Linked DNA regions of Homo sapiens. The protein of the gene in region 2 interacts with the protein of the main gene of each other region in a biochemical or structural test. Each region holds a gene or a part of one and is shown on either strand. Other genes may lie near its edges.

Region 1 (3,745 bases), on a different chromosome or scaffold from region 2:
CCTAGCTTGTCCTCTATCATGACTCATTTTTATCTATGGCAGGTAGGCTGAAGCACTTTGCAGGTTTACATCTTCCCCAGAGTAACAGCTTTTCCTTTTCACATATACTTTCCTTACTGCCTTACTCAGTGGGTAAGTTAAAGGGCTGAAGGAGAGTTGAATGGTCCACAAGACTACCCTCTTAAGAGGTTTCACAAATTCCAAACAGTACCAGTGAGAGCAGCACTTCCACTGGGGCTAGGCTTGAGACCTAAAGGCAAGTATGAAATGCATATGCTACTTCACTCCCTCTCCCAACCCTTAATAATGAGGCAAAGCAAGAGCCTAGTGAAGGCCAATGCTAGGTTTACAAACTTACCCAGAAGCCTCTGCAAAGCTTCACAGGCTCCTCAGATGAAAATAACAGGAATCAATGGGGACTACGGCCAGACACTGGTTTGCCATTCTGTTCCTTTTAAGAAGTAACAGTGCTGCAAGGAAGTCCATGTCAGAAAGCCAACAGAAGGTGATTTCCACAACTTTGAACAGGTTGTTACAAGTATCAGCAAGAATGTGTCCTTTTCAGAAATAACAGTCAAATCAAAGAAGGTTAATAAAGGCTTTAATTTCATACACACAAAAAAACTCTATGCATAATTTAAAAAGGAAACAAAAACAAAGAAAAACCGTAAAGGATACAGAGGAACAGTTCTGCTAAAACACAGATAAAAGTGCCGCTCCATACAAAACATAAAGAATCAGAATCAAAAGTCACTCTGAACATAAAGAAAAAAAATCATCTCACAAATAATGTGGCCACAGCTGCCAGAAAACCTGGTAGTGGCTCAATTAGGCAAAGTGTAGGAATCTCATTTTTGTTTTTCTCTCCTTAAGTTTAAAGAAACAACAATGACAATAGGCCAGAGAAGTTAGGGAGGGAAAGAAAAGCTCAAAGGGAGGGAAACCTGGGGACAAGAGGTGTGCACACCCACATGTGGTCTCACTCTTCACACAGGCCCACTATTTTTGAAGTAGACCAGTTTAGTTGACTGTTCTTCTTTGTTCTGGCATCTGACTGGACCAACCTGGAACCTGGTCCAGACCCTCACCCACTCTATTCTTATGCCAATGGACATACCTATACTTTGAACCTCTGTACTTTTAAGAAAAGTCCAATGTTACAAAATCAAATGCTTATATTCAGACTGGCACACTTTTTAAATAAAAACTCCATACACCTCAGACATATAGCACACATGGAGACAACTTACTAATTGTGTGTAAGTATGATACAATGAATGAGACTGCCTGAAGTCTAGTAATCAAAGCATGCCATAAGGTGAATGATTGTGGTTAAACACAGCAAAATAATTGTCACAAAACTTTCAAGGCCTAACAAATTAGAATTTTCCAATAAAAAATATATATTTTTTCAGATGTTAATAAGACATATCAGTAGAGACAAAATTAGGATTTTGAAGTAATGCAATAAAAAGATGTTGGAGGGCAGAAGTCTATTTAGTTTTTGTATACACTTGCAAGAGTGCATTACTCAGTATAAAGCAAAATGGGGAGGAAAAAGACATCCATCCATTTTATTGGAACACTTTTATGTGACTTGAATCTGGTGTTAGGTTGTTGATTTTTCTAAAAATCTCCTATATATACAAAATCCATATGTACTTGGAGATCCAGCTGTTGCCCCCTGTTTAAAACAAAAGACCACCTCGGGGGGTCAATTAAATTAAAAAGGCCCTCCAACCACCCTAAATGGGATAACTAAGAGTATCTACTGCAGTCATTTCAGAGGACAGAGAAGGAAAATATTTTAATTTGCTTTAATATAACCTCTTTTCAGTAGATCACAAATGAGTTTACAAACTACTTTTTTTTCTCTTTAATTTAGGTGTTTGCAGATAATTTTCATTATATCCGTAGCTGTATGTGTGTATAGTTACATAATGGTAACTACACACGATACAGAAGAATCAGTAAATTCATGGATTATTTTGCTGAGGTTTTAAATTTTAAAGCCTCTGTTTCAGAATTTTATACTTGATCAAGGAGAAAAATAAATGTGTAGTCTAACATTTGCTTTCTGGAGTTAATTAACTGATCTGTAAGAACCACTGCATATGTCTTAAAATGTAAACATATTTACATTTGTTGTATTTGTTATTGAGCCTTTAAGGTTAGGCCCAGAATGAACAGACCATAGCAAGTAAACAAATAATTTTTAGAATCAAAGTATTAATAGAAGACCAGTTCATGGATTTGCTTATTCTATCCTGCTGAGACAAAACTCATGAGTGTGCACACACATGTGAATATATCCCTACGAAACAGTCTATCTTCTCATAGGCTTAAATTATAGTCATGGCTATTAAAGAAATTAACAGCATCCAGCCACATGCAACTTTCCAACCTTCAGTACTATTAGGTGATTAAAATCAACAAATATGAAGTTTAGTTCATTTTTCCCTTAAAATTCCAACAAAGATCAAAAGGTTGTATCTAGAACTAATTGCCATCAAGTTCCAATTCAATGTCATTTAAAGTAATGTAACCACACATTTGGTATTTTCAATAGGAAGGTTAATTAGGTATTGTGCAAACTGCCTGCAACGGAAGCACTCAGTCCTTATCTAACTTGTCCCTTCCTGGCCCCAACATGCTAACTGCCCCATCCCCAATTCTGGGCAAACTGATCACAATGTGCAAAAAATAATATATTATCTATTTATAATTTTAAAATATATACAGCCAGCTCAAAAACAACAACAAACCCCATCAACATAGTCCAGCTGAAATCTCCACTGGTAGTCAAAGAAGTAGATTAAAGGAGTAAAGGAAGGAGAAGGCTGATAGGGCCACAAGAATGGACAGACATCAAGTAAAATTTGAGTCCCAAACATGCAAGTACATGAGCAGTGAGATAACTTATATATTCCAATAACCTATTTTCAACAACTCCTGCCCAAGACATGAAGATCAAATCAGGTTTCTGAGGTAAGTGTACTTCTAAACCATACACACATGAAAGCTATGAAAGCAATTCAAATGAGGCTGCTTCATGAGGCAATCTAGACTTATGGCATTATTTCTACTTTTCTCCATGTTTTAATTGCAGCCTGCACTTTAAATCTTTCCCAATAATTTTTAACAGTGCCTCTCAAATGCAAAGACACGTAAAAGAATTAATAACTAGCCAAAGAATTTTATCACCGCTTCACTCATTTATAAGAAAACCAATTATTTCCAAGCAAAATCAAACCAAACCAAAGAGGCTCCTGGTAGAAATGAAACAAAACTTTAAAGCTAGTTTTAAAACAAATATTTTCCTCTGCTCTAAACTACTCTGGCGTTTTCTACCACTCTACCATTTTGGAACATTCATTACAATAAGGTATATAGGTAGATGGTAGGAGGCAAAGCATTTATCAGTAGTTGAGCAAAACTGCTGAGGCCATTTATAATTCAAAGAATGAAAACTTAGAATAGTTTACTACATTAGAATACATCCAAGTTCCAAGAGTAGGACTGGAGCTCTCTTAAGGCAATCTTTCAGAAAAGATGTTGCATCTTCTGTGATGATGGTTTGTGTTTTTTTTGTTTTTGTTTTCGTTTTTTTTAATGAGATGGAGTCTCACTCTGTCACTCAGACTGCAGTGCAATGATGCGATCTCAGCTCACTGCAACCTCTGCCTCCTGGGTTCAAGTGATTCTCTCATGTGATGGTGGGTTTTTAAATGTTTTTTCCTTCTGA
Region 2 (3,745 bases):
CCTTCTGATGGGCGTGAAATGGCAGCTCACTGTGGCTTGAATTTGCCATTTCTCTCTTCACTAAACGAGGCTGAGCAGTTAGTGAAGTTGCTGCTGAAACAAAGAATGAAAGGAAGCCAGCGTGAAGATCTAGGAGCAAGAGACGTAGGGGAGAGGAGGAAGAGCAGCAGGTGCCAAGGTGGGAAAGGTCTGGGATGTTGGAGGAACAGAAGGAAGGCTGGGGGTGGGATCCTTGTGCATGGGGGAGGGAGAGAGGCTCAAGCCAATGTCAGCTGGGGTCAGAGCAGCGGGGCCGAGTTGGCTGAGGAGAGGACTTTGGCTTTTACTCTGAGACAGGCGCATGGGAGGGTTTGAGCAGAGGAGGGGGTGATCTGGCCTCACTTTGGCTTCAAGCAAAGGATCCTGATTGGAGCTAAATTGACACGGGACGGGGAGTATTCCGCTTAATGACTGCTTACTGCCTCTGTCCCCCACCCTACTGCCCGCTCTCCAGCTAGAACCAGGGGAGGACGATTTTGTTCACGGCTGTCACACCCGGCACCAAGTGACTAAACAGACAGTAGTTCTGCCCTTCAGGTTGGTGGTGGTGGTGGTGTGGGGTGCTTATAGGTTTTTATAGTCTTCCTTCACAGGTGGAAACAAGAACGGTGAGACCTGTGAGGTTTATTTCAGAGCCACCCCCGGGCCTGGTACGCCTCCCAGGGAAGCTGGGGTGGGGGTGCAGCTGCCCCTCACTTGGGCCCACCCCACATGCATTCAGTCAGGGCCCCTATGGAGCCGTGTTACAGCCTTTAGACACAGGATCGAGGATCTTCACGGGGTGAGGAGACACGCCCGGCCCATGCCTTCTTTCTCCCGCCAGCCTACAGGGATCTTTTTCAACGAAACTCTAACCAGGTCCCTCCTCAGCTGAAAATCCTTCGGTGGCTCCCCAGTGCCCTTGAGGCAAAGTCCAAACTCCTACGAGGCCCTGGGGCCCAGCACATCTGACCCCTCCGGGCATGCCCATCCCACCCCATCCCTGGAAGCTGCTCTCTAGGAGTTACTCTGAAGCAGTTGCCACTTCTTCCCTCGGGCCTTTTCCCTTGATAATTCTTCACTTCCTCTGGGAAGTCACCCCGACCCCCTGTCAGGTGACCCGCCTCTTAACGGTCGCCGCGTCCCGTCTCTCCCCCACCAAAGCACACTTCCCTTTGCATTGTAATTATCTGTTTACTTCGTCTGTCTCCCTCACTGGACCAGAAGCTACCCTTCGGGAGAGGCTCTGAGTGTTCTGTCCGGGGCTGTGCCCTGGCCCCAGGTACAGTGCCCCACACGTGCTGGGCGCTCCGTAAACACTGGATAAGGGAAGGAACGGGTGCTCTTGGCTAGCTGGGCCAGGCTGCTTTGCAAAAAGGCCGTGGCATTTCAAGCCGCCGAGAGCCACGTGCGGTGTCCCTTTCCTCGCTTCCTCCCCAGTGATGTGCGTTTCCCTCGTCAATGCCACGCTCTCCAGGCGCCAGCCGGGCGGAGGAAATTTCCGCCCCCTCCCAAGCCCGAGGCGGGGGCGGGCGTCGGAAGGTCAGGTGTCCCGGCCGGCGCGCAGCGCCAGGGGGCGTCAGAAGCGCTCAGACCACCGGGCGCTGAGCCGGTGGGCGCGCGGCGTCCTGCCGGGGTCCCACCTCGCAGAGGCCTCGCTTCGCTCGACGTCCCGCCCCGGACAGCCCCAGCACCGGGGACGACCCGCGCTGCGCCAGCGAACCCCGCCTCGGAGGAGTCCCCGCCCGGGCTCTCACCGCCACGCGGCGCGAGCCCGGCCAGCAGCCGGCGCACCTGCTCGGGGAGTGGCCTTCGGCGGAGACGAGCCTCCGATTGGCGCGGAGGTGACAAAGGGGCGTGGCAGATAAGGCCCCGCCCCTCCCACCCCCCACCACCCCCCCGGAGTACTTAAGGGAGTTGGCGGCGCTGCTGCATTCATTGCGCCGCGGCACGGCCTAGCGAGTGGTTCTTCTGCGCTACTGCTGCGCGAATCGGCGACCCCAGTGCCTCGACCACTATGCCGCGCTCTTTCCTCGTCAGGAAGCCCTCCGACCCCAATCGGAAGCCTAACTACAGCGAGCTGCAGGACTCTAATCCAGGTGCGTTGGAGGGGTTCTGGGCTCCAGGAGGTTTGGGGGAGACAGGCGAAGGCTGCGTGGGGGGCACCTGAGGGAGGCGGCCTGCCTGAGCCAGGATCGAGTCACAGGATGTTTTGTGGACCATTGCGGGCTCGGGAGACCGGGCAAGTGGGTCCCCAGTTCCGGGGATCTGTCTGGGTGGTTGGGGGAGTGCCGTGTAGAGGGCAGGGGTCTTCAGCTTGGGGGGCCTTTGTAGCCGGCGAGAGGCGGAGGAGCTCCGCAAGAGGGGAAGGAGAGGAGGCCTGTGTCAGGAGGGCCCTCTGGACGCTGCTGGGGAGAGTCCGGAGTCCAGAGGGTTGAGGGGAGGGGTGGGGAGACGAGATGTGTGTGAGGAGGGGGATTGGGGCAGGGTGGTGGCTCCGGGGCTGGGATGATGGGGTTCTGGCCTCAGGCTGGAGACTGGGGACTTAGGAGAGGGAGATCAGGAAATGACCTCCTTCAACTGGGGGTCCTACGTGTGAGAGACTCAGATTGGGTGACCTGGGCGAGGAGGGCAGGAACCTGGTCTGTCCTGTGGATAATTTTTTTGATCTAATTATGTATTGAGAATCGGCCCCACCCAGCCCCTGGCCAGCGGTGGGCTCATGTTTGTTGATTGAGTGAATGATTTAATTAACGCCTGACTCTGCTTTTTCTCCCTCAGAGTTTACCTTCCAGCAGCCCTACGACCAGGCCCACCTGCTGGCAGCCATCCCACCTCCGGAGATCCTCAACCCCACCGCCTCGCTGCCAATGCTCATCTGGGACTCTGTCCTGGCGCCCCAAGCCCAGCCAATTGCCTGGGCCTCCCTTCGGCTCCAGGAGAGTCCCAGGGTGGCAGAGCTGACCTCCCTGTCAGATGAGGACAGTGGGAAAGGCTCCCAGCCCCCCAGCCCACCCTCACCGGCTCCTTCGTCCTTCTCCTCTACTTCAGTCTCTTCCTTGGAGGCCGAGGCCTATGCTGCCTTCCCAGGCTTGGGCCAAGTGCCCAAGCAGCTGGCCCAGCTCTCTGAGGCCAAGGATCTCCAGGCTCGAAAGGCCTTCAACTGCAAATACTGCAACAAGGAATACCTCAGCCTGGGTGCCCTCAAGATGCACATCCGAAGCCACACGCTGCCCTGCGTCTGCGGAACCTGCGGGAAGGCCTTCTCTAGGCCCTGGCTGCTACAAGGCCATGTCCGGACCCACACTGGTACGTGCCCCTCCAGGCGCCCCCACCGTTGCTCTCTCTGGCAGCTTTTGTGAATCTGGGCTTGCTGTTCTCATTCCCAAAGCTGTGGACACTGAGGCCCCGAGTCTTCTAACTTCTAGCTCAAGTTCCAGGGCCTGGCTCTCTGGAAACGTTTGGCAGAAACTTTCTTCATCAGCTAAGCAGATGGGCAAAGCAGACACCTTCCCAATCCCCTGCAGCCTGTTTCTCAGCCAAATGGGTCGGAGCTGGATATGGGAAAGGTGCAACCAACACCTTGCTGTGGGGGCCAGGTGTGAAGGGGCCCACCCGGCCACACCCTCTCCCGGGTCCGCCCCCTCCCTAGCCAGACAGGATGTTGTCAGACCCCCCGCCTGGCTCTGAATCCTTCTTTGAGAACTTTCTCAAAACTTAGGCTGAT
Region 3 (3,745 bases), on a different chromosome or scaffold from region 2:
CTCCACAAGCAGGGGCGCCCCGCTGTGAGCAGGCAGGGCCTCCCCATCATCCCGGCAGACACAGCAGAAGAGTGAGTGGAGGATGCCCCGGCTTCGGGGCTTCTGGGAAGCTGCTGACTTCTGGTCACCTGAAGTAGGGAGGCACAAGTTGGAGGCTCGGTGCACACTGGCCTGCAGAATCCTGCATGTGTGCCCAGGTGTGAACCCCTGAGCCAGGAGGATCTTGCCGTGGCCCCTTCATCCAGACACACGAAGGCAGCTCCTGACTTTCTCTGAAACGCCCCTGTCAGGGCTCCACAATCAACTGCAAGGCTCCTGCAGCTCCCAGACAAATAGGTCTAGCAGGTATTAAGGCGCCCACATAGGGAGTGCGTGGCCTGGAGAAGGAGGTCCTGGGGTGCTCTCTCCCTGCCTCTCACAGCCTCCATGACTGCTGCTGATCAGCCCCATTGCGGTGCCTCCTGACCCCACCTTACCTGAGCACCCCTGCTCAGGACAGCCAGGGCCTGGGACCCAGGGCAGTCCACCCCTGCCCTCCCTCCATCCTCTCCACCCCCGTGGGTACGAAGTCCTCACTGCGGCTGGGCCCAGAGGCAGGGGTGCAGTCCCGCGGCCTGGGGCCAGTGTCCAGTGGCCATCTGTTTGCCCTGCCCCGCCCAGACCTCCGACCTGGAGCCCAGCAGCCTGATTGACAGATACCCCTCCCACCCCACCCCCCTCCGGCCCCCTGCAACTAGCCTTTCCACCTTGCCCTCAGTTCCGGGGCAGCCAGACCCAGGCGAGGGTGGGCAGACCTGGGGGCAGCGTCCAGATCCTGAGGTCCACACGGGGAAAAGGAGAAGACAGACCCCCCCACCCCGGCCCAGCCACGCTGGGGGACGCAGCCTCGTCGGGGCGGCGAGGCTTTGCGGGGTGGTGCGTGCCCACTAGGCGCACGACTCTCCCCGCGGGCGCCAAGCGACTCTTGGAAGTGCCGGCCGTCCTCTCTGTGCCTCCGAGGGGGTCGGCGCCTCCACGCGTGACGCGAAGTTTGTGGGGAACGTAGCTGTGTGTTGGCGGGAGATCCCTCCAAGCCTCCCCAGCCTGCTGTCACCTCGGCGCCCCCTCCCAAGACCCTACCGGACCGCAGCCCGGGGGGGTGGGGGTGGGGGGTGGGGCGGAGTCTCAGCGGGTGGCCCATAGGCGCCCTCCTCAGCTCCCCCATCTCCCAGCCCCATTGGCGCCAATGGTGGGGGGGCGCCCATGCACCACGCAATGCCTGCCAGGAAACCCCCGAAGAGTTCCCTCTCTATTCCTGCCTCAGTTTCCTCACCTCGAGCGAACAGGAGCGCCCCAAAGGCGCCAGGCCCCGCCCCGCGTCTCTGAGCCTCCTCTGAGTTCAAACTCTCTCCCTGCTCCCTCTCGGGCTGGGAGCTTCGGGCACAGCTAAGGCGGCCGCCCGGGGCGGCGGCGGCGGCTCCCCTGGGGAAGATCCCGGCCCCTTCTCTCCTCCCACGGCGCCCCGGCTTCGGCCCCCTCCCCGCAGCCCCGGTACCTTTGCCCCGCAGCGGGCCCCGAGCCTCCTCCTTGCTGATCTGAGTAATGACGGCCGAGCTGTCCATGGGGCCGGGCGCGCTCCGCTCCGGCCGGACTCTGGCCCGGGCGCCCGGCCTCCCCCCCGGCTGGGGCCGGAATCGGGGCGCGGGGGGGAGGGGAGGGGTGGGAGGGAGGGATCCCCGCGAGCTCCGGAGGGGAGGGGAGCCAGGTTCTAGGGGGGAGGGGGAGGGAGGGGGCGCGGAGGAAACTTTGTTACAACATGGAGTTTCCTTCCCGCGAGGCGGATGCAAACATGGAACCCAGGCGCCGTTTCAAGGCTCCCCCTTAAAAGGGCAACGGCTTCGGCGTGACCTGGACTCGGCTGCGGCTTTCGCCACTTCTGGGACCGGCGCGGCTAGGCGGACTGGGAGGCGGGCCGGGCCGGGTTCCTGCCGCGCTCCAGGGGGCGTCGCCTCCCTTCCTGCCGCCCGCCGGCGGGGCTGAGTCTCTGCGGCTGCGTGGCAGGCCCGGCACCCGGCTCACCGTTCCAGGCCGCCGAGCGCCCTCGGCCAAGGCCCGCCCGCCGGGAGCGCCCACGCCGGGGAGTGCCCGAGTGCGGCGCGGCTCCACCTCTGCGTTTTCTGAAGACCCGGGACTAGAGGCTTCTCGGTTTCCTCGTTGAGGACTTGGAGATAGCACTACCTCATCTGTAAAATGGGTCTTCTCTCCTGTCTGGTGGTCGCAGAGATCACCTCGCAAGGACGTCAAGAGCCAGCGAAGGCTCTGCTGGCCCGAAACAGCTGTGCAAACCTCAGAATCACGCTCTTGAATGGGACGGTCGCCGCCCCCCGCAGCCCCAGGGCGAGGTGCCCCCGGTCTGTAGGACGTGAAATTCTAACTCTCTGCCCTGGGAAAGCCCCCTGCCGACCTCTCCCCACGGCCCCACCCGGGGCCCCGCACGTCTACCCGCCGCGCACGGGCCACCGCGCGTTCCCGCCTGAAGTTTTCGTACGCGCTGTTCCTTTCGCGTAGCCAAATTCCACCGACCTCGAGGAAATGCCACCTTCTCCAGGGGCCTTCCCAGACCCCCTCCCCTGCCCGCGGTCGACGGCCGCCCTGTGATTACTGGGGGTGCGGTGGGAGTCACTGGACTCGCTGCCGATCCTAGGAGCCCAGCACGGCGCCGCACGCGGTGGGCCCAAAGCCCGACCGTGGGGGACCTCAAACCAGAGGCCCTCAAGGCCCGTTCCACCCGGCCTGTGGCGCAGTGCTGGGCACTTGGGAACGGAGGTCCCTGTCTTCTCGCTGCAAGCCCCTCCGTGGTGCGCGCCGTGGGTCTGCGGGTTGGTCTTTTTCCTCGTTTATGAAGTTCTTTTCACTCGTCGTTACTATTTTGTAAGTTCACCATTTAAAAATTAATAATGCCAAGCCCGACAAACACCCCTCGGCACTTCCTCCCCTCCCCCTCTCCCGCGGGCCTCCGTGGCGGGGCGGGGCGGGCGCGTCCTGTCCCGTCCGGCCGCCGGGTGCGACGCGGCGCACGTCCGCCAGGCCCTGCCGAGGGGGAGCCGGGGAGGGGAGGCCCCGCGCGGGGGCCGGGAGGGGAAGGGAGGGGAGCGGCGTCTGCCAGAAGGCGCGGCGGCTTCGTGCGCTGAGGCTGGGAGTAGGGGCGGGAGGGGACTGTCGGGGACTGATACCCCGGTCCCCGGGCTGGATCCCTCGGCCCTCCTCCTGCTCCTGGGTAGCCCACGGGGCGGCCACCATTGCGCTTCATCACCGTGATCGCCACACGCTGCTGGCGTTTTCCTAGGCCTGCTCTGGCTGCGCCCCCTAATCTCATTTACCCCTTAGAACGGCCTCCTTCTTAACCCATTTCACAGATGAGGAAACTGAGTTTCAAGAAAGGAAGCGACGTGCTTCGGGTCTACCGGCAAGGGCAAAGGCGGGATTCCAGCCTGGGAGCGGGACATCTGTCTCCCCTGCGGTCCGGCCCCCTGGGTGGGGCCTCGGCTTTATCTCCGGATGCGGGGCCCTCATGACCCCAAAAGGAAGCGTGTGGCGAGGGACTGAGTGGAGTCGTGGCCTCGCCCTTGGCCTGGGTTGGGTGGCGCGCTTTCCTCTCCCTCTGTGAAGGGGGCTGGTACCTGGCCGGCTGTCCCCACACCCACCATTCCCAGACGCGCCATCCTGAGCTCACAGGATTCCTCAGGAATCCCCCACCTCCTCCACC

Evidence for each region.
Region 1: the proteins of SNAI1 (region 2) and USP37 form a complex in vitro, tested with the Homo sapiens proteins (2 studies listed by BioGRID, with this or other methods).
Region 3: the proteins of SNAI1 (region 2) and CTDSP1 form a complex in vitro, tested with the Homo sapiens proteins (2 studies listed by BioGRID, with this or other methods).

Annotation. Positions count from the first base shown.
Region 1 is NC_000002.12:218,449,667-218,453,411, forward strand, and holds the end of USP37 (ubiquitin carboxyl-terminal hydrolase 37), read right to left. Parts: 3' UTR 585-3,745; downstream 1-584. UniProt on the Homo sapiens protein: Deubiquitinase that plays a role in different processes including cell cycle regulation, DNA replication or DNA damage response.
Region 2 is NC_000020.11:49,981,025-49,984,769, forward strand, and holds the start of SNAI1 (zinc finger protein SNAI1), read left to right. Parts: upstream 1-1,955; 5' UTR 1,956-2,035; coding exon 2,036-2,117; intron 2,118-2,799; coding exon 2,800-3,327; intron 3,328-3,745. UniProt on the Homo sapiens protein: Involved in induction of the epithelial to mesenchymal transition (EMT), formation and maintenance of embryonic mesoderm, growth arrest, survival and cell migration.
Region 3 is NC_000002.12:218,397,947-218,401,691, reverse strand, and holds the start of CTDSP1 (carboxy-terminal domain RNA polymerase II polypeptide A small phosphatase 1), read right to left. Parts: upstream 1,825-3,745; 5' UTR 1,602-1,824; coding exon 1,535-1,601; intron 1,290-1,534; exon of another isoform or gene 1,205-1,289; coding exon of another isoform or gene 739-1,204; intron 129-738; coding exon 1-128. UniProt on the Homo sapiens protein: Preferentially catalyzes the dephosphorylation of 'Ser-5' within the tandem 7 residue repeats in the C-terminal domain (CTD) of the largest RNA polymerase II subunit POLR2A.